Homo sapiens: one gene and its partners. The protein of the gene in region 1 purifies or fractionates together with the protein of each later gene. This does not show direct contact. Each region holds a gene or a part of one and is shown on either strand. Other genes may lie near its edges.

What was found.
Region 2: the proteins of MAGED2 (region 1) and RIC8B purify together in Homo sapiens (co-immunoprecipitation; 3 studies listed by BioGRID and IntAct, with this or other methods). This does not show direct contact.
Region 3: the proteins of MAGED2 (region 1) and NAP1L4 purify together in Homo sapiens (affinity purification with mass spectrometry; 4 studies listed by BioGRID and IntAct, with this or other methods). This does not show direct contact.

What each region holds. Positions count from the first base shown.
Region 1 is NC_000023.11:54,803,416-54,810,744, forward strand, and holds the start of MAGED2 (melanoma-associated antigen D2), read left to right. Parts: upstream 1-4,329; 5' UTR 4,330-4,387; intron 4,388-4,930; exon of another isoform or gene 4,931-5,018; intron 5,019-5,665; exon of another isoform or gene 5,666-5,808; intron 5,809-5,887; 5' UTR 5,888-5,916; coding exon 5,917-5,961; intron 5,962-6,306; coding exon 6,307-6,798; intron 6,799-7,329. UniProt on the Homo sapiens protein: Regulates the expression, localization to the plasma membrane and function of the sodium chloride cotransporters SLC12A1 and SLC12A3, two key components of salt reabsorption in the distal renal tubule.
Region 2 is NC_000012.12:106,777,473-106,784,929, forward strand, and holds part of RIC8B (chaperone Ric-8B), read left to right. Parts: intron 1-6,524; coding exon 6,525-6,572; intron 6,573-7,457.
Region 3 is NC_000011.10:2,989,082-2,996,658, forward strand, and holds the start of NAP1L4 (nucleosome assembly protein 1-like 4), read right to left. Parts: upstream 3,249-7,577; 5' UTR 3,173-3,248; exon of another isoform or gene 3,148-3,172; intron 3,027-3,147; exon of another isoform or gene 2,713-3,026; intron 2,711-2,712; exon of another isoform or gene 2,431-2,710; intron 2,023-2,430; exon of another isoform or gene 1,828-2,022; intron 191-1,827; exon of another isoform or gene 48-190; intron 1-47. UniProt on the Homo sapiens protein: Acts as a histone chaperone in nucleosome assembly.

The DNA.
Region 1 (7,329 bases):
CCAGTGGTGGGAATGGTTATGGAAATCTGAAGAACAAGAAAGTCTGATGTCCAATTTAAAGTTGATTTCTATGCTGAGCTGCATGGTTTAAATGACTAAAGAAATGACAGGCAGCCTTAAAAGGAAACCTTTGCTACCCTCTCCCAAATTTTCCAAAATTCAGAGATACGGATTCTGTATAGTTTAGGAGAAAGTAAATGTGCTAGGATAGGATTGGTGGTGGGGATATTCTGGGCTTTCCATTTGAGCTTCAGGAGTCTGGAGTCTTGGATGCCTGTGGGACTAGACAGTTCCATCTCTACATTCTGCACTAAGCAATCCTTAGCCTGCCTTTCCTTATCTCCAGAACAGAGCTGCCTGATGATAACGGCTTTTCATCTTTCCTCTTAGTTGATATGTAGGATCTATATGGTCTCAGATATTTCTCTACTGATTTATGGGTGCTAGAAATGGGCCTGAGACCCAGTGACCTAGGTTCTTCAGAGTTTATGGGTGAATGCTGAAGATCAAGATTCCAAGAGTTCACAAGGAGAAGGTGGGAGGAAATCTCTCTGGTCAAAGGGTAAAGATTATGAACTAATTTGTCTTTTCTCCCCCGATAAGGCTGCCTCCTATCCTCTGATCCCCAGGTCATAAGATAAGGTTGTTAATGGTATTATGTTATGAAGGTGGTGGAATTGAGAGGGGTCTGGGGAAGTTTGGGTTTGACAATCTTTGGGAATGCCTCTCTGATGGATTTGGACTGAGATTTCTTCTGACTTCCTGAATCCAATAATATCTCCTAACGTTCTGACTCTGTATTCCTTTAAATTACCCCAGGATCCCAAAGACCACAACTGGGACCTAAAACATTGTGAAACTTAAAATGTTGGAGGTTGTAACCGAGCATAGATATACCAGAAGGGTAGTTGTAGCAGAGGGTGTTCCCCATGGGGACAAAATTGCATAACAAAGGCTCCTAGGCAAGAGAAGGCAGGGCATATCTGGTAATAGTGAAGTGTTCTGTTTAGGTGGAATATAGGCAACTATATCTAGTACTCTCAGAAAAACAGCAGGAAAAGGGCTGGAAAAGCAGTCAGGGCTGGATTTTGGGAGAGCCTTGAAATCAAGCTCAGGCGTTTCTTGGGAAAGCATTCCATACCCATTGTCATGTATACCTCACCTGCTATTCATATCTCAACTCACTGCAATCAGGAAACTGTTGCATGGAATAGACTCTGAAATAACAATAGCTTAAATAAGACATACATCTATTTGCCTCACCTAAAAGAAATCCAGAGGTAGGCAGTTCACGTTGGCTTCATGAAATTGTTACGGATCCAGGTTCTTTTTAGTTTACTAATCCAGTATCCTTAGAGTGTGACCCTAGTCCTCATGGCCTTTATTCTGGGAGGCTATGTATCTAGCTAAAAATCAGGTGACTTATTACTAAGGAAGAAGAGGAGGATGAATACTAGGGTAAGCAATTAGCAAGCTATGCCACAAACATGTGCACTGAAACTATTCCTTCCAAGGTCACCAGAGACCACCACTTGATCGTCAAAATCCCCAGACATTTTTTCAGGTCTTACTTTTCTTGATTCTTGGCACCATTCATCACTATTGACCTTGACTCCTCCCTCCTTTTGAAACAATCTCTTCCCTTACTTTTGTGACACTCCTTTCTCCGGTTTTTTTTTTTGTGTTTGTTTGTTTGTTTTTTTTGATGGTGTCTCACTCTATCACCCAGGCTGGAGTGCAGCGGCACAATCTCGGCTCACTGTAACCTCTATCTCCCAGGTTCAAGCGATTCTCCTGCCTCAGCTTCCCGAGTAGCTGAGACTACAGGTGTGGTCCACCACACCCAGCTAAATTTTTGTATTTTTAGTAGAGATGGGGTTTCACCGTGTTGACCAGGCTGGTCCTGAACTCCTGACCTCAGGTGATCTGCCCACCTCAGCCTCCCAAAGTGCTGGGATTACAGGTGTGAGCCACCATGCCCGGCCCTCTCCTGTTTTTCTCTCTGCCTCTTTGGTCACTCCTTATCAGCCTCTTTCATGAGTTTCTTTTCCTCCACCTATACCAAAGATGCTGTTGGACTGCAGGGCTCTTCCGTGGGCCCATGTCTCTTCTAGCACTACGCATTCACCGGGGTGCTGTTACCCTTTCTCAGGAATTCAAGAACTATTTATGTACTGATGACTCCTAGATCTATAACCTCAGCCTAGACCACTTCTCTGAGCTTCAGATATGTATATTCAACTGCCTGTGGTACATTTCCACCTGGACATGCCACAGGTGCCTCAAAAGCAATGTTCAGTTCTTGTCTAACCTGCTCCTCAAACCCGCTCTTCCTTCAGTATTCCTGATCTCAGTGAAAGGGGTTACCATTCACACAATCTCTCAAATCAGATCGCCAAGAGTTCCCTTTGACACTCCCCTCCTCCTTGCCCTTCTCTTCACAATCCAGTTACTCAAGTCCAGTTACTTTTTACTTCTTTACTATCTCCTCGATTCAATCACTTCTCACTATCTGCCACCACTCTAGGCCAAAGCACAATCATTGCTTACCTAGATGACTACAAAAGTCATAAGCACTCTCCCTGTTTCCAAGACAACACCTAATCCACACTCCATATAGCAGCTAGGTGTTCTTTCTAAAACACAAACCTATGCTGTATCCTTGCCTAGAATTCTTTAGTAACTCCTGGGTGCTCTCAGGATCAACACCAAAGTCCTCATCTTGGCATTCTAAACTTGCCAACTTGCCATGATTTGGAAGGGGTGGGGAATTTGAGATGCCAGAAGTAGAAGAAAAGGAGGGGCTATGTCTAGTGTGGATAAGGGAGAAAATCTAGGAGGCAAGAACATGGTGAACTGATATCACACACTTGGAGAAAGCAATAATTCAGAGAAAGAGAAAAGACAGGAAAACAGAAGCCTGCCTTGAATATGCAAGAAATTTGTGTGTTTGTCTATCTTGAATTATCCATGGAACACAGGGATTCATTATATGTTATTTACATAGTAAAAGGTGACCACATAAAGCAGAAGACTTGTGTCCATTTGAATTACATTTATATGTGGAAAGGCACTGAATATTATTTCTGCAACTAACAGTTGTGCTGAATTTTATTATGGTTTCTAATAACTTTTTAGTTGATGCTCTTGGGTTTTCCAGGTCTGCATTTATATATTCAGTAATTAATGATGATTTGTCTATTTCCTATTATTTTACATCTTATTTTGTTCTCTTGAACAGATCCAATTGGTTATGTGAATTTATTATGTGATAGAGGTGCCATTTCAAAGCAGAGAGGGAAAAGATGGATTAGTTTGCACATGATGTAGAGGTAAGAGACTATGATTTTGAAGAGTAATCAAGCTGAATCCGTATAGAAAATAAATTTTGAAATGATCAAACATCTAAATGTAAATAATAAAGCCACAAAAGTGCTTGAAAAAAAAAACGGGGTTTGTTATAGGAGTGTGAAAAGCATCTTTAAGCAAGCAGCAGAATCCAGTTGTGATGAAGGAAAAATGGATATATTTGACTACATAATAATTAAACATTTTTGTTTGGCAAAAATTATCATAAATAACATGAAAAATATTTGTAATATGTGACATGTACAGGAGAGACATTGCTGGCGGGAATGTTATCCATTTACTTTTTAGGAGTAAGTTGACAAATTTTGCATCAAAATGGAAGACTTTTTTGTAGCATTTGAGCTAGCAAAAAATACCATAAATAACAAAAAGTGCACCAAGCAATCTAAATGTACATGTGTACTGGACTGGTTCAATAAATTATGGGACATCTATGCAAGAAAAGATCATGCAGCTGTTTAGAAAAATGTGCACTAACGGAAAGATGTTTTATATATAACTGGAAAAAAACAGGTCGCAGAACAGAAGGTATGTATAGTGTACCATTTGTCGGAGAGAGAACCTGAATAATTAGTATACGAATAGAAAAAAAATCTGGATAGCAAAATGTTAATAGTGGTTATTTCTGGGAGATGAGTGGCCTTTCATTGGTGTGTTATATATTACTGCATTGTTTGAATTTTTACAACAACAACAAAAGAACAACATATTACCTTTGTAATAAGAAAAAATGAAGATATAAAAATAAATTCAATGAATGACTTGCTTTCAGGGGGCGGTTTGAGTTGGAAGAGCTTCAGACTGAGCCTGGTACAGTGGCATAAACATGGGCTTTGGCGTCAGACAGCCCTGAGCGGGGCCCCATTGCCCCACCCCCGAGGAAGGCGAGGGGGGGTGGCAGGGGGCTGCGGAAAGGGGCTGGGCTGGGTTGGGCTGTCTGCAGCTCTAGTCCAGGAGGCTGAGACTTCGAGAGGGACTTAGAGAAGGCAGACGCATCCCGAACTCGCTGGAGGACAAGGTGAGGGGCGTTGATATTGGGGTTTTATGGAGGTCAGACAGTGGTTCCAGACCCCTCGAACCCATAGCCAGGCAGATGAGCAATTCTTACTGCACCACTGCAGCTGAAGCAGAGGTGACCTGGAGTGGGGTGTAGGCAATGAGGACGACTGAGAAAGTAGTAGGCTGTACAGACTGGGAGCAGAGACTAGCGGAGGGAGGAGGGGAGAAAAACGGGGAACCAGGAATGTTGGGAGGGGGACGAGGAATACAAGGAGGGAGGGGAACACTGAGGGGGAGTGAAGATCCAGAGAAGAGAATCGGGGATGCAGAGAGGGATTAAGGAATACTGAGGGGCAGGGTGTGCAAACGTAACACGGAGGAGGATGTAAGAAATGGGAAGAAGGAATTCTGGAGTAAATAGGAAATGTGAGGTAGGAATAGGGAGTAGGGAGCCAGGCTAAGGGAATACGGAGGGGGGCATAAGGAATGAGGAGCAGGGAGCGGGGGAGGGGCAGACAGGCTGGGACGGAGGCCCCCTAGGGAGGCGGAAAGGGGCGGGACCACTTCCGGCCTAGAGAGGGGAGGGCAGTCTCCGAGTTTCGGAGGGGCTTGGAGTGAGTGGACGCACTCGGGAATTGTAGGAGGACGAGGTGAGCAGCCGGGTCGGCTTTTGGATGAGAGCCCCGCTAGGGGTCGGCCCCACCCTCTGGGATCTGGAGAAAACCTGCCTTAAGGACCGGATCGTACCGGATCCATCCGGCTGGGAAGGGAGGGGACTGGACCCGGTTTGGCCGGGCCCAAGATGGAATCACTAGCTCAGTATTTATTTGAGGAGGGGGTGTAATAGGGAAGGGGCGGAACCAAGATGCGCCTGTTTGGAGGGGGGCGTGTTAGGAAGAAGGGCGGGGCCAAGAGACACTGGACTCTGTAGGGCGTGAGTAGGGGAGGGGCCGGGTCCACCAGACACTGCGACAATTTTGGAGGAAGGCTTGTTGGGCAGGGGGCGGGACCGAATGGTACTGCGGACCTGGAGAGGGGCGTGTGTTGGGGCAGAGTGCCAGACTGAGACCACGACCATTGCGCATGCGCACTATGTTTCGCTAGAAAGGGGCGTGTTGAGAAGGGCCAGCACTGAGAAGAGCCAGCTGCTGAATGCGCATGTGCACGGTGGACATCAAAGAAAGGGCTCGTGCTGGGAAAGCGGGCGGGGCTGAGAGCGGCCCTGCAGCCGACGCGCATGCGCTCTATCGACCTGCGGCTGGGTGGGGGGTGCACTGGGAAAAGGGGCGGGGTCCTCAGAGCTGCCGCGCTGGCACATCTTCCTGGAGAAGGGGAGGGTGCGGCTGCAGAGAATTGAGACTTAGAAGCTTTGAATTCCTGTATCTGAGAACGGAGTCGTTGGGGGTGGTGGAGGGGGTTGGAATTGGGGACCTACGGAAGGTGAGGATCAGCCTCCAGGCACAACAGGGGAGAGGACGTTCAGTGGGCTTCAACTTGACCCAGGCCTTCTCCCCTTCAGGCTCAGCTCTTGCCAGGCCAAATTGAGACATGTCTGACACAAGCGAGAGTGGTGCAGGTCTAACTCGCTTCCAGGTAAGGCCTCTTTCTGTCCTTTCCCCAGCTGCTTTTCCTCTCCAGCCCTTGTTGCTGCCCCCAAGTCCCTTGGCTCTTCCCCTCCCATCCTTGTCCTTCTCCACCTACTTTCCTGCCTGGGTGTCCCCCTGCCCAGTGGAGGGAGGGAGAGAAGGTGGGCGGGCCCCTCTTCTGCCATCAGTTCTTGCTCAGAGGAAAGGGAGGCCTTGTTGGGCTGAGGTGGTCAGAGCACACCGCAGGTAGGAGTCAGTACAGGTCAGAGAAGTGTGGCCTTGGAATTTTGGAGCCATTTGCTTAGTTGGGGGTGAGGAGAAGGTCTATGAACTTCCCTGCTTCCTCTTGCAGGCTGAAGCTTCAGAAAAGGACAGTAGCTCGATGATGCAGACTCTGTTGACAGTGACCCAGAATGTGGAGGTCCCAGAGACACCGAAGGCCTCAAAGGCACTGGAGGTCTCAGAGGATGTGAAGGTCTCAAAAGCCTCTGGGGTCTCAAAGGCCACAGAGGTCTCAAAGACCCCAGAGGCTCGGGAGGCACCTGCCACCCAGGCCTCATCTACTACTCAGCTGACTGATACCCAGGTTCTGGCAGCTGAAAACAAGAGTCTAGCAGCTGACACCAAGAAACAGAATGCTGACCCGCAGGCTGTGACAATGCCTGCCACTGAGACCAAAAAGGTCAGCCATGTGGCTGATACAAAGGTCAATACAAAGGCTCAGGAGACTGAGGCTGCACCCTCTCAGGCCCCAGCAGATGAACCTGAGCCTGAGAGTGCAGCTGCCCAGTCTCAGGAGAATCAGGATACTCGGCCCAAGGTCAAAGCCAAGAAAGCCCGAAAGGTAAGACCTCTGCAGTCACCACCCTTGGTTTTCTACTCCTCTCTCAGTTGATTCATTTGTTCTACAAACATTTAGAAAGATCCCTGTGCTCATCAGGGCTGTGGGGGGCACTGAGAGTAATGTGATGTAATTCCTGTCTTCAGAGAGCTTGCAGACTGATGGGGAGGTGCAATCTGAATGTAATGCAGTTTATGTTTACATAGTAGCTGCCCTGTATTAGGCCTTGAGCTAAGCACATTTATGCAGGTTATCTCATTAAATCTTGAAAGTAATTCTCATAGCCCCAATTTTATGGAGAAGGAAGCTGAGTTCCAGAGAGGTGAAGCGGCTTGTCTAGGATGGTTCAAGCAGAGCCAGTAGTGGGCACAGAAAGAGAAGAAGACTCAGCCTCCACCCACCCTTGGTTTGCTCCTGGCCTGCTAGGCAGATGAAACACCTGCTTGGAAGTCAGTGAGAAACAAATCCAGGGTTCAGCATGGCCAACATCTATTGAGTCAGGCTGTTACTACAGGGGTGGGATTAGCGGGTGCT
Region 2 (7,457 bases), on another chromosome or scaffold:
GTGATTATAGGGCATTGAGGAGTCCAACAGAGAGAAATGAATGCTGTAGAGAGAGAGAGACCGGTTCGTTATTTGGGAGAGTAGTGGAGAGGTTCTTTATGCTACCTTATACCTCTAATAAAGCTAGTCCTTGAAAGGAGGCAGTCAAGTGTAGTAGAAAGGTGGTGGGATTTGACATCAGATAAACTTGGTTCAAATCCCAACTCTGCCATTTATTAGCTTTATGACTATGGATAAATTATATTAAGCCTGTGAGTCTCAGTTGCCTTACCTGTAAAATAGGGATAATATCACCATTCTCTTAAATTATTGTGAGGATTACATTAAATGAAATATAATGCCAACACTGGGCACAATGCACCTAGGAAGCACTCAGTAAGTTACAGTTATAATGACCAGGGTACCTAAGAGGTGTGGCCGGAGCACAGGTTCTGTAGCCAGCCTGGCTATGATCCTCAACTTAATGGCTTGTGTGACCCTAAACGAGTTACTTAACTTTGCTGTGGCTTAGTTTCCTCATCTGCCAAATGGAGATAATAATAGTAACTATATCATAGATTTGTTGTCAGGATTAAATGAGTTACATGTGTAAAGCACACAGAACAGTGCCTGCCACTGAGGAGGCACCCCATAACTGTTAGCTTTGAACAAAAAAATTAAACGTGGCATGAGTTGGGATAGCACGATATTAAAATTTGGGAATATGCTCCATTCTTCCCCTTCTTTTTCTAATGGGTAGCAAAATTGTACCTTGTACCGCTTTTAGAGATACCTGTCGGGCTCCGGGAAACATCTAATTTCTACTGTGTTATATAGATTCTCATTTCCAAGCCTTCTTGCTTCATTCACTGACCTTTGTTATCTTGGAGAGAGGAAATATGTATCTATCCCAGAAAGAATGAAACTTGTCTGTTTGTCAAGGGCATGACACAGCATAGGTCTCAGCATAGGCAAGTTTTTTTGTTTGTTTGTTTGTTTAATGGGAGGAGCAGTTGTTTTTCTCTCCTCTCAATGCACCTGTTAACATTTATTGAGTGCCTGCTATGTACTATGTATTATCCCAAGCATTTTCACATTTCGTATGTCATCTTATATTAATTCCTCTTATATTAATCCTCTTATATTAAAACTTATGAGGGAGATGGAAGTATTCTATATACAGGCTCAAGGTCACATAGCTAAGAAATGGCAGACCTGGTCTTCAGATTCCATATCCAGGGATCTTTTTGCAGGGCTATGTTGCCTTTACCCTGTCTCTTCTGTGTTTTTGAGCACAGAAAAAGTTTCTTTTTCAGGAGTGGTATACTACGGTTATTCCTCAATATCCAAAGGGGATTGCTTCCAGGATCTCCTGTGGATACCAGAATCTGTGGATACCAAAATCTTCTAATGCTTTAGTCCCTGATAGAAAACACCATAGTATTTGCATATAATCTGGGCACACCCTCCATTTTTTTGAGATGGAGTTTTGCTCTTGTTGCCCCAGGCTGGAGTGCAATGGCGCGATCTCGGCTTATCATAACCTCTGCCTCCTGGGTTCGAATGATTCTCCTGCTTCAGCCTCCTGAGAAGCTGGGATTACAGGCATGCATCACCATGCGCGGCTAATTTTGTATCTTTAGTAGAGACGGGGTTTCACCATGTTGGTCAGGCTGGTCTCGAATTTCCGACCTCAGGTGATCTGCCCGCCTCGGCCTCCCAAAGTGCTGGGATTATAGGCGTGAGCCACTGAGCCTGGCTGGGCATATCCTCCTATATACATTTTTTTTTTTTTTTTGAGACAGAGTCTCATTCTGCCGCCCAGGCTGGAGTGCAGTGGCTTGATGTCGCCTAACTGCAGCCTCCGCCTCCCAGGTTCAAGCGATTCTCCTGCCTCAGCTTCCTGAGTAGCTGGGACTACAGATGTGTGCCACCATGCCTGGCTAATTTTTGTATTTTTAGTGGAGACAGGATTTCACCATGTTGGCCGGGCTGGTCATGAACTCCTGACCTCAAGTGATCCACTCACCTGGGCCTCCCAAAGTGCTCTGATTACAGGCATGAGCCACTATGCCTGGCCTCTCCTATATACTTTAATCTCTAGATTACTTATAATACGTAATACAATGTGAATGGTATACAAATAGTTGTACTGTATTATTTAGGGAATAATGCCAAGAAGAAAAAAAAAAGCCTGCACTTGTTCAACACAGACACACACAAAAAAAAATTTTTTTTTTTTTTTTTCAGATATTTTCAAGCCATTGTTGGTTGAATCCACAGATACAGAATCCTTTGGCTACTGTTGGGTCCTAATCACCTCAACTTTAGTTATAGAATGAACTGTTAATTTGGGGAATTATGTATCATTCCAGTCTAGACTGTTCAAGCTCTTGCTCCCCCACGGGGGCCTGTTCTTTTTTTTTTTTTTTTTTTTTGTGTGTGTGTGTGTGTGTAGAGTTGGGGGTCTCACCATGTTGCCTAGGCTGGTCTTGAACTTCTGGGCCTCAGCCTCCCAAAGTGCTGAGATTACAGGCATGAGGCACAGTGCCCAGCCCTCAGGACTTCTCTAATAACACATTTAGTAGAGAGATTAGTTGCCATCATTATCATGATTATCAACAACAAACTGTGACTAAGGGCCCTGAGGTATGGAGTAGTATCATGATTCTTTACATCGCAGGCTATTTATGTTAGAGGAGCCTCAAAGATAATAGGGCCCAACCCCCTCGTTTAATAGATGACTCATCAACTATGATGATAACCAGAGACGTGGCTTGGTGGCCCTGCAGGCCACCTGGACATATGACTACCCCATACATAGCAAATTCCAGCAGCATTCCAGTTTTGAAGTATGGCAAGTTTTTGGCCAAATGAAAGGTATTTAAGATACAGACAGATAGGTAGGTCTCTAGTAGTAGTCCTCTTAGGAGAAGAAAACAAGACTGCTGGCAGTGAGGTCTTCATTCATGTGCTAGAAGAACCTGATTCATAGAAACCTGATATTGGGACAGTTCTATAAATATAGCCTCTACATTTGAATAGAGTATGTAAATATCCAGGACCATGTAAGAGGACTTTTTGTTTTCTACTTTGGAAGTTGGGCTCTGACTCTTTGATTTCACTCTGTGGGTTCTTGCAGAGAAGCATGTTTAGTGGGCTGTTCCTTTGTTATACTTTGTTCTTATGTCCAGATTATGTTATATAATTTGTTTCTAATTTTTAGTTGTAGAAGCAATCTGTGTTCATGAAACAGCACAACATACACCACGCAATTAGGTTTATTCCCTTGTAGTAGTGCTGTTTGAGTGTATCTTTAGAAATCTATGAAATTATTCCTAGCTCTCTAATAGGTCAATATTTGGCCAGATGCCACACCATAGGTTATTCAACAATAACAGTAGTGGCCATTGAACACTACTGTGTGCAAGGTGCCATGCTTATAAAAAATAAGGAAAATTTGATAGGTAGTAAAGTTGAATAACTTGACCAAGTTTACACTTTTAGTAAACAGTAAGACTGGACTCAAACTCAAGGTTGTCTGACTCCTGATCCTGAGCTTTTTAGAGCTTATTCATGGAGTATGAAACCTGTAGTGAGAGTCCTCATAATAGTCTGGTGTGTCACTGAGCTGTTAGCTTGCTTGATCTCTAAATTGAACAATGGTTTAACTCTTTTTTTTTAAATGGGGTTTTATCGTGTTGCCCTGGCTGGTCTCAAACTCCTGGTCTCAAGCCATCTGTCCACCTCAGCCCCCCAAAGTGTTAGGATTACAGGTGTGAGCCACCATGCCCGGCCAATTTAACTCTTTATATTTGATTTTTTGCTCCTGTTTCTCTGGAAATTAAACATGTAAAGAAGGTGAGATGGCTGACTGTTGGCTAACAGTTCTAGAAATACATGTACAGCTGGAAATGCTTGTTCTCTCTTTCCCCATTTCAGCCTTAGAAAGGGGAGAGAATAAAGATAGGGGTACTGAATAAGTTAAGTATGATCTAAGTTGGATAAAAGAACCCAGGTTTATAGAAGCCAACATCTATTGGATCCAAACACTCTTAGAGGTTTGAGCTTCTGAATAGATTGGCGCATTCCAGATTCAATTTGTAGTGCCTCACAGACCATTATATTTTCTAATTAAGAGCAACAGAATAATTAGACCTTGGTACTATTCTGAATTCCCACCTTAAAAGATTAATTCTACAGAGGAACTGTTTAAAAGACACTTATAACTTACTGAGTGTCTTTCCAAAAGACAATTTATTTTTCTTTCCCCTTACCATTAATGCCAAAAAAAAGTTTAGAAGAAACGTTATATTAACAAGTAGGTACATTTATTCCAGATAATTTATGGAATTAGCATTTTACATATAATGGCAAAAAAATAGGCTTTCTTGGTTTCTTAGTGCGATTATTTTCATTTGTATTGAACCTTTAGGGGCTTTAGTTTACAACTTTAACCTGATATCTGGCACTTTTAAGTCTAATGTTAATTTTCACTAAACCTCAGGTCTATACATTTCTAAGTATAGCCCTCAGATTTACAATCTTTCTTTCCTCTCCTCCTTCTTTCTTTTTCTTGTTCTTTATTATCTATTTAAAAAAAATTTTTATTATGAAAACAATATACCAACAATGAGTCTTCTTTTTAAAAAATTGCTACATAATATTTTGTCAGGTGAATATATTATGTATAATAGAATACTGTCACATGCATAACATTCCGTCAGTCTCCTGTTGGTTATTCCAGTTCTCGCTTTTTTTCTTCCACTATGTTGGATGACACTGCAGTGATACACATATAATTATTCTCTCCTTCTAGATCAGTAGGATAAATTCCTAGGAGTAGGAGTTCTGGGTCAAAGAATATGAATATTTTTATGTCTTCTAATATGTGTTGTTGCCAAATCACTTTCTCTTTTAAGGTTTATGTCAGTTTATACTGCCACCAGGAGTATCATGCCTGGATTATTGATGTCCATTCCTCACAGGGCATTATGTCCTTAGTCTTGCTTTCCTTTAATCTGGCCTGTGAGCTACCGCCCAAAATGTTCTACCAGAATGCTGGTCTCACACCTCCGTCGTAGTCTTCCCCTGGTTGCCTGTCACCTATTTGCCAATTCAGGTGTAAATTTTAAAATCCATGCCCTTACCACCTGAGTTCATTCCTTTTAATTGTTTTGCATCTATATTCGAGGCAGCCTCCCTCCCTCAAATGGCCACTCTCTCCTACCTCTGAGTCTTCCCTCTGATCATTTCTTACATTCAGAACTTCTTTTCTGCCAACATTTCTCTATCTTCTTTAATTTAAAAAATTGCTGCTTCTACAAAGATGTCAACACAGAACCACCTGTGATGATGATATCTTTAGTACTCAGTGTACTTCACTCCTGGTGGGTTGCCAGTAAATATTTGTCAGTGTGGCTAATGAGAGAAAGAAAAAAGAAAAAGTGGAGAGATTTTTGGTGGAGATTTTTGTTTTTTAATAGAAAGGCTTAGAATTCTTAAGAGTACTTGGTTCTCCTGAATAAAACTTCAGAGGAGAATGAGGAATTCTGTGCTCTATTTTTGGGGTACCATTGTTCTTTCTGTGATCATGGGCAAGCCAACTTATTCTGTCTTCTATTCCCCTCTACTTCAGCTACAGAGTAGAAAATATAGTATTGCCAATCATTGCAGAAGAGTCATGACACTCTCTGCCTTTCCAGTTATTTTTTCCTCATAATCATTGGCATCATCATCATTATATCCCTAATATTTACTGAGTATTGCTACTTGCCAGCACTGAGATTGTGCTTTATATACATGCCTTAGCTTTTTTTTAACTGTCACAGTCTCTCTATGAACTAGGTACACCCTGTTTTCAGATGAGAAACTCAGTTCCAGAGAGTTTACTTGCTTAAGGTCACAGCTAGTAGGTGGTGGAGCCACCATGATTTAAACTCTTATTCTTATTGAATTACTTTTCTGAAATATCAAACCATCAAGTCTTCCCTATCCACAGTTCTCTGATGATTTCTTATTGCATATGAAAAAGAAAGTATAAACTCAGCAGCATCGGAAGGCCCTTCCAAATCACTGTCCAGTCTACTTTTCCATTCTCTTCTTCCTCCATGCCCCACCCCAAACGTATGTCCTGTGTTCCAGTCTCACAAAGTTGCTTATTTCACAAATATATCATATAGTTTCACACATTCGAGCCTTTGTTTTTGTTCCTGGAATGCATTCCATTTGCCTCTGGCAAACTCCTGTTTATCCCTCACGATCCAACACAAATGCTCTGTATTCTGTGAAAGCCATTCCGGATTTTCCTGGGCAGTTAGTGGCTTGGTTTGCTGTGCTCCTTTGTATATATATCTGCTGTAGTCTTTTCACACTGCTTTATAACTATTTGTTTACATGCCTGTCTCCCTTACTTTAATAAGAATATTGAGATACGGGAAGGCAACATTTTTTACAGGGACATTATTTTAGATGCTATTAAACGTAGCCAAAATTAAAAAATACATGTATTTAAAATGACATTGTTTCCCTTTTTTCCCCCTCAGCATAGGGCTACTTTCAAATTTGAATCAACAGATGAAGATAAAAGAAAGGTAAGCCTTGGTGTTGCTCTGTGAATGTTTATGTGTGTGTGTATTGCATTCATGGACTTTCTAAGCAGTGGTCATGTTTTCATCTGATGGTTATTGATTGGTTTCTTGTTTCCCTTCATTTTGTTTTTTAGGAACCCTGAGAAGAAAGGTTAGGTTAGGTTTAGTTTGGGTTACACGTAACTCTTTCCTCCTTTGTCCTCGCAGGACTATTAACACTTGTATAAATCAGGGGAGTGGGAGGGATTCAGAGGAGTCTCTTCCCAGATCTACTCACTCCCAAAGACTGACTGTTTAGTGGCAAGACTCCAGGTTGCCCAAAATCCATTGCTAATATTACAAAACTTAGCTTGAGGCAAGGTCTCGCTCTATCACCCAGGTTGGAGTGCAGTGGCTCACTGTAACCCCAGACTCCTGGGCTCAGGCAGTCCTCCTGCCTCAGCCTCCCAGTAGCTAGAGCTACAGGCACACACCAGCATGCCCATTTTAAAATTTTTTTGTAGAGACAGGGTCTCATCATGTTGCCCATGCTGGTCTATTGAGCTTCTGGCCTTAAGTGATCCCTCCTGCCTTAACCTCCCAAAGTGCTGGGATTACAGGTGTGAGCTACCATGCCTGGCCCTGCCTTTGTGTCTTGCTGTACTCCGTACATCTATCCCTGGCTATACAAATGCCAGAACCAAACAAGAGAGTATGACTGAATCAGTGTAAATCTATCACTGCTGCTAGAAAAATAGCTTAAATCCAGTATTTTGCTAGTAGTGGGTTGACAGTGCCTTGAAATCATTCCTCCATTCACCTGTATCCCCATACCTAATATCAGTGTCTTGCTCATTTTACGTTTTCAGATTTCTTCCATCCATTTTCTCCTTAACCTCTGCTCTAATT
Region 3 (7,577 bases), on another chromosome or scaffold:
AAGACAAACCTTACAACTATAGTTTCGGGAGGCATAAATTTGCTTACCTCAGGAGGTCCCACAAAAATTCAGCTGAGGCCAGGTAACAGCAGTTTCCTGCAGAGATCAGCTACTTCCTATCACCATAGTGGTCGAAGAATCAAACGAAGTAATATCAGATTTCTACTCTGGAAGCCTAAAACACTTTTCCCTTTAAGCAAAAAAGCAAGCATTCCTTAGCTAGCAATCTCAGGCCAAACTCCCAACAAGCTCATCTCTGCTGTCTTATTCAAATATAAACCATCATGGTTTCAAGCAGTAACAGCACTCGCCTATTTCACACAGCTGACGCCTCTTAGGCCGTCAGGAATTTAAATCACCTTCTTGCCCACAAAGTATTTTTCTTCCAAAACAAACTGAAAAATATAGGCTCTTTGGCAACATTTTTGGAAGTACAACATAAACTTATCACAATAATTTTTAAACTGCAGACAACTAAAGGGAAGGAAGAAAAGCACTACTATATATACATACATATTTGAGGTCACCTCCTCCTGATGCTAGAGACTATCAACTGCTCAAAAGAAGGAAAACAAAATAAAGATTTCAGTCCCCACACTTAGCTGCGAATAGCTAACAAAGGGAATTAACATGCGGTCAATAACAAGAGGCTACTAAAAACTCTGACAGGTTAGGAAGTTTTCATTTCAGTTTCAAATTCAAATTCATACTGTAAAGTGGTGATGAACACATCCCATCCGCAGGTACTTAACCTCCATACAAATAAGAACTACCTCTCATATGGGCAAAAAGATCAAAATTCTACAGAAGAATCTGATGGCTAAATGGCTAATTTGCAAAACACAATGCCCTGTACATTTTGAGGACATCCTAAAACATGTGTAAACTTTTCAGAATTCAGTTTACCAAAGTTATCAAACTTAAAAATGATTAAAATTTATTTGCTACTGCAAAGAATTCAACCAATTTCTCCAATGACTACTCCATATTCATTTTGAAAAACAGTACCGGATTTAAAGCTTACACAACAAAATTCACAAAAGTGTTATATGTGCCTATATGACATATAGGCACAAATAACTGCAGACATTCTGAAGCTAACACTGCTCAACCAGGAAAAAAAAAAGACTGCAATTGGATATGTAATAACAGCTATTTAAGACGGCAGTAACGTGTTAAAATGGTTCATAAAAATCACATCATAAGGCCCTGAAATTCTAGTAAAAATATCTCTAAGTAAACTTGTGAACTACTACTAAATAACTAATTTTCTCTCTCTCTGTAGTCACTCATTTTATCTTTGGATTACTTTCCCATTCTATCACCACGTTGCTTTCTCTGAACTTCATTTTACATTTGCATATTATTTATTCCATTAGCAATTGCTCATCCCAGTCTGAATCTCAAAATTCTACTATAGGAGGCATTTGGCATTCTGTGGAATAAGAGAATTTTGAGATGGAAATGATCAACCAGCTCAAAACCTCGTAAGCTAGAGTTCAGTTAAGCTTAGCACAATGATGAAAACAATTTCTCATTAAAACTTCTTTCATTCCCTCTACAGAAGCAGTAACCCTGGGTACAGTTAAAACTGCCTGGGTCTTTAAGCTTTGTCACCTCGGACAAGTCATTATACCTAACCTCCCAGGGCCTCAGCTTCCAGAGTAGTTAAATGGAAAAACAATAGCATCTATCTCAGGTTATTAGATTATGAAATGAGTTAACACACGCAAACAGGCTGAAAGAGTCCCTGGTGCGCAGTGCAGGTATTAGTCATTTAGAGGTATAGTTACTATTACAGGAAGGTAGTAACTTAGAAAGACTTACCTTTAAGGTCCAACAACCTAATCTACATATTTGTATATTTCTAAGGTAAGAGAATTTTTAAAAGTCTATTTTCACCCCGTAAACCTAATGCAGGAGGATAAGGCACGGGTTACTACAGGAAAAAGTAATGCAGACTGGGGGATGCGAACCAAAGCACAGACGAATGTGCCCCGACGATTCCTCCGAGAACATAATGAAATGGCGGACCTTCCTGCCAGAGGAGCGCACAGTCACCCAGGCAGGTGATGTGACACACACGTTAGGGTCTAAAGGTCCCAAGGCTGGAGTCCCCTTTACTGGACCCTAAACATGTCTGCCTCCTGCCCCGCAATCAGACTTAGAGAACTGTGGACGGTGGAAAGTCTTATCATGACCAGGCCATCCTTCGCTGGGGTGAACGGAAAGCATTCAGAAGGGGAAAATTGAAAACAACAAAGACTCTGGTCAGGTCAAAAAATACAAATGTGACCTCTTCCACCATCTCTGAACTGAAAGAAAAGCATGGCACTTTCCCATCCATAACATGTACAATTTTTTTTTTTGGAGATTTTGCTTTTCCCTTGTGAAAGACGGTTTTAAATAGTAAACAGACTTGCTGCCCACCTTGGCTGGGAAACCAAGTCCCGTGAGTAACTAGTCTAAGGCCACTCAGGCCAGTCCTCGGGGAGCGCACGCCGCCCAGCTCGCTCCCACCGCACAGCTCCCAACAGCTAAGAAGCAACGCCAAGGACTTTCTTCCCCGTCAGACATGCCCTCGGCCACACCAAACTGACATCAAAACCCCAGTTAGCCCAGCCTGACCCCACAGAGGCTCACGATGACAACCGCCCTACGGAAAAACTCAAATTCCTAAACATCTAATAAAGAAGTCCTGGACGTCTCCACCTTAAAAACGGGAAGCCTGAACGCTCCGGCGCGCCCGGCCGTGTAACCGCCACAGCCCCCGCACGCGGGGCGGGCTGGGCTAGCGGGAGATTTGAGCGGCCGCCGCCTCTCGCCGTCTTCGCCTCCTCCAAGGGGCCGCCGCCCAGGAGGCCGCCCGCGGCGCAGAACAAAGCGCCTTGACCTTCAGTGAGGCGGGCAGCCGGGCGAGGCGCGCCGGGAGTTGGGAGGGGCCTCCCGCCAGCGCCCCAGGCCCGGGCTCCAGGCCCCAAGCCCCAGGCCCCGCCGCGGCCGCCGCTGCCTGCCCCGACCAGAACGCGGCCCCGCCCCTGCCCCACCGCCCCGAGGCTTCCAGAGATGGCCGCCGCCGCGCCCGCGCCGGACCCGCGGCCCCACCCGCCCGTCCGGGCCCGGCCGCCCTCCCCAGCGCGCCGTTACCGGCCCAGCACCCGTGTCTCCGCACCTCACGCCTCCTGCGGCAGTGGCGGCGACCCTAGCTTCGCTCGCTTTGGGGCTGCGCCGCCGTGGCCTCCAACAACGCCGGCTCCCATTGGCCGAGGCTCCTAGCTCCTCTCTCCGCGAGCAAGACAGGCTGCGATTCGCCGAGCGCGGCGCAAGTCAACTGCGCTTCGCGCCGCAGTCAGCAACCAATCACAAGCCTCCGAAGAAACGCCGCGCCATATGCAAATATTCCTCCGCGCGGCGCGCGCCCTGCGTTCCTCCGCCTCTTTAAATGGGGCGGGGCAAGGTGGAGACCGCGTGTGTGGTTCCGGGGGGTCCCGGGTCCCCGCTCCCGGGACCTTCCCCGGGTGGCACCACATCCTCGCGGGACACTGGGCACCACCCCTCTCCGTGGGCCCCGGCCCCAGCCGTCTTTATCTCCTGCGCCCTCCCAGTTCCCTAGTTCAATCCCGTCCGCGGCGGGTCGGTGCCTCCAGCACTCCGTGCGCCCGCTGATGTGAGAACCCCACCTCCCATGTCGTCCCCTCGCGCTACTCCTTGAGAACATCGCGGAGGGCCCCTCCGCCTGGGAGCCGTTTTCAACCAGCCCCGTTAGTGGTTGGGACGTAAGCCTAACCCCCGCTCATCCCCCAGGTCCCAGGTTGGAGAACACTTCCTCTGCGAAGAGGTCGGGGCTGGGTCACCTCCGCGGACAGGACGGGACTAGCCACTGCCTGCATCTCTTCCCCCACGCCCTGAGCCCCGCAGTGTCCCAGCAGCCTAGTTCTGGCCTGCGGGAGACCCTGTCGGACAAGGAGGAAAAGCAGTGCGCACTGGGCCCTCAGATCAGCCCCCTGAAGCAGAGCAGGGCAGAGGGCTGGGGAGGAGCTGGCCTGTTTCGCCCGCCCTGTTCTCCCTCTCATGGTGCCCTCTGGGCTGGGGTGAAGGTACCAGCCCCAGCCTGTGCACATCACATTTTGTAGAAAGGCATCCAATTTGATTGGAAAATAACCCCTACGCTGGGACTTTTGAGGCTGGTTCATTTCCATGTTCAACCGTGCCATTGGGGGTCTTCAAGTCTAATGTGCATTTTTTTCAGAAACGTTCTCTTTTGGGATGACGTTACTTTTGAAACAATTGCTAATTATTATTATTATTAGCAAGTTATTCCTGTAATGGGGAAAATTTGAAACCATTTAAAGGCTCCTGGTTGAGGGATTAAGAACATAGCGTCGGTTATAAACCTCAGAGGTAAGCTGGGAGGCTGAGGCAGGAGGATTCCTTGAGCCCAGAAATTCAAGTCCAGCCTGGGCAACATAGTGAAACCTCATCTCTAAAAAGAAATTAATGCGGAGCGCCGTGGCTCAGGCCTGTAAACCCAGCACTCTGGGAGGCAGAGGCAACAAGTCCAGCCTGGGCAACATAGAGCACCCTTCCCCTGCTCCAAAAACAACAACAACAAAAAATTACCCAGGCGTGGTGGCTCAGGCCTGTAATACCAGCTACTTGGGAGGCTGAGGTGGGAGAATTACCTGAGCCCGTGAGGTCAAGGCTGCAGTGAGCAGAGATTGGGCCACTGCACTCCAGCCTGGGTAACCAGAGGGGGACATTGTCTCAAAAAGACAAAAAAAAGGCCGGGCGCGGTGGCTCAAGCCTGTAATCCCAGCACTTTGGGAGGCCGAGGTGGGCCGATCACGATGTCAGGAGATCGAGACCATCCTGGCTAACACGGTGAAACCCCGTCTCTACTAAAAATACAAAAAAATTAGCCGTGCATTGTGGCGGACGCCCTAGTCCCAGCTACTCGGGAGGCTGAGGCAGGAGAATGGCGTGAACCCGGGAGGCGGAGCTTACAGTGTGAGCCGAGATCGCACCACTGCACTCCAGCCTGGGCGACAGAGCGAGACTCCATCTCAAAAAATAAAAAATAAAAAAAAAACTAATTAAAACAAAAAACATAAAAACCCCTCAGAGGTGACCGGTGCATGGCTGAGGCCTGACCCACACAGCGTGCTCAGTCCTGTCTGGCCATCTGTGTTTTAGGAGAGGGTGTGTGTGCTCTCAATTCCTATTTTACTTATTTAGACTTTCAGACTTTTCTACAAAGGTCATGCTTTATGCTTTGCGGAAGCATAAACAATGATAGAAATGACACAAGAACCTGGGCATTTGAAGTTTGGAGGGTCCTTCCTCCCATCTAATAAAGTCTCAAGACCATTTGCAGTAATGGGATCCCCCTGCTCCTGGATGTTGGGGTTGGTGGGGGTGGCATCCGGGTGGGTGGATCCTCTGAGGGAGCTGGGCCTTGGGGCTGGGGGCAGCTGGACCTGCTCCCTGGGAGATCTGCTGGAACTGGAATGATTGTGGTGGTGGTGTTTTTCTCTTGGTGGTTGGTGGTTTCTCTCCTTGGAAGATTCTCATTTGGAAATAGAGTCTTCACAGATGCAATTAGGTAATGAGGTCGAGTGGGCAGATTGCTTGAGCCCAAGAGTTCGAGACCAGCCTGGGCAACATGATGAGATCCCATCTCTACCAAATATCTAAAAATTAGCTAGGCATGGTGGTGCATCTATAGTCCCAGCTGCTTGAGAGGCTGAGGTGGGAGGATCACTTGTGCCTGGGATTTAGAGGCTGCAGTGAGCTGTGATCATGCCACTGCACTCCAGCCTGGGTGACAGAGCAAGACCAAGACCCTGTGTCAAAACAAAGAAGTCCCCAGATGACACTGACATGCAGCCAGAGCTGAGGGCCACTGGGATCAGGACTCCCAGGGTAGCTGGCGCTTGGTGAGTTTCATTCCTGTTTTCCCAGCGCTGCCTCTGCCAGGCCTCAGGCATGAGCCCACCTGTCTACAACCCCTCTGCTGCCTCAGCCTCCTCCAACCTGGAGATCAAGAGTCCCCTCCAGAGGCTACCTTGCCTGTAGTTCTGCTCTTGGCTGCCTTGTCCTCACTGAGGCTCCGGGAGACAGTCCCGGACAGACACCACGTGTTTCTTCTTCACATTGCCAGCACCCGGAAAAGTGCCTGGCACTTGGCGAGCTGTGCCCTTACCTGGGCGCTACTGACAATGGCTACACCTTGGCCTGGAAGTAGAGGCAGCAATCACTGCCCCATTCAACAGAGGAGAAAACAGAGAAACCCCTCTAACGCCCCCAGCTAAGTGGCTCTGGCCCTGGAGGGGGCGGCCATGCCCTTCACCTGTGGTGGGGGCGCTACTCCTCAAAAGACCTCGCAGCCGCCAAGAGCTGGAGCCGAGGCCTCAGAAATGCCCAAAGCCCCCTCAGTAGGCTGGGGGCTCAGCCTGTGGGGCATTAACAAAGTGGGGCCCTGGAGACATCCAAGAGAGGTGGCTGGTTTCTCCTGGTATATGGAGAACAGAAAACACCCATGGCGTACTCCACACAAGAGGGGTGCGCAGACAGGGAGTGCCTTTGCAAGCTTCCCGGCCTCAGAAAGAAGGCATCTGGAAGACTGTACCCCAAATGTTGTAGGGATTTGAGAGGTAGGGCACGGGGTCTTTCAGTTTCTACTTTATATTGGAAGTTTTCCGTATTATTTATTTTTAAATAATGAATACATGACGTTTTTATAGTAAAGACACCAAAGATTGCTCTTTGGGGAAAAACAGGAAGATGTAAATCTGGCTCTTACAGCTGAACAGAGCTTTCATGTACAGAAAAGAAACACTTTCCACAGGCAAACTAATATTATACAAGAAAAGTGTCCACCCCACGTTGTTCCAGAAGGATCTGCTGCAGCCTGACAGCAAGAGATTGCAGGGTAGGGAGGTGCTGGGGTCCTCTTGGGGGCCAAGCCAATGGCCTGGGCCCAGCCAGCCTATTGTCACTGCAGGCCCTCGGACCCAGCCTGGGGAGACTGGAGGAAGTCAGGGAAGGGCAGAGAGAAGGCGCACCGGGCAGTGGGCCCTCAGAACGGGGAAACTCCAGGCAGAAAAGCGGCCCAGAATCACTCTGAATTGGGGGGCGTGAAACAGGGGCCACAGCCTGGCCCTACTGCAGTCCAGGTGGAGCCAGGCCTTCACCAGCTGTGGGGACCAGGCGTGCCCCTGGCAATCTGGATACGTTTTTGTGCAGCCACCACTGGAAATGGGGCACACGCCACTCCTTCTTGCCTCCTTGGATGGCACCGCGGCTTTGGGCCAACCTCCGCTCACCCCAGTGGTGGCAGCTAAAGACAAGGGTATTTCCTCATGGCCCAGTTGTCAGGATATTTGATACATGGTTTCCAGCACAGGCCAGTAAAGAGGATACACTGTGGAAGGGATTGCTGCTGCTGCAGTGCCGGCTGCACTTCATCAGTTTCCTTGGCTAAAGGATACTGAGTTACAGGTTTCAGGCTACTTTGTATCTCATTAAAGACACCTCTCCATGCAGCCGCCATTATCACACTAACAAAATTAGCAAAA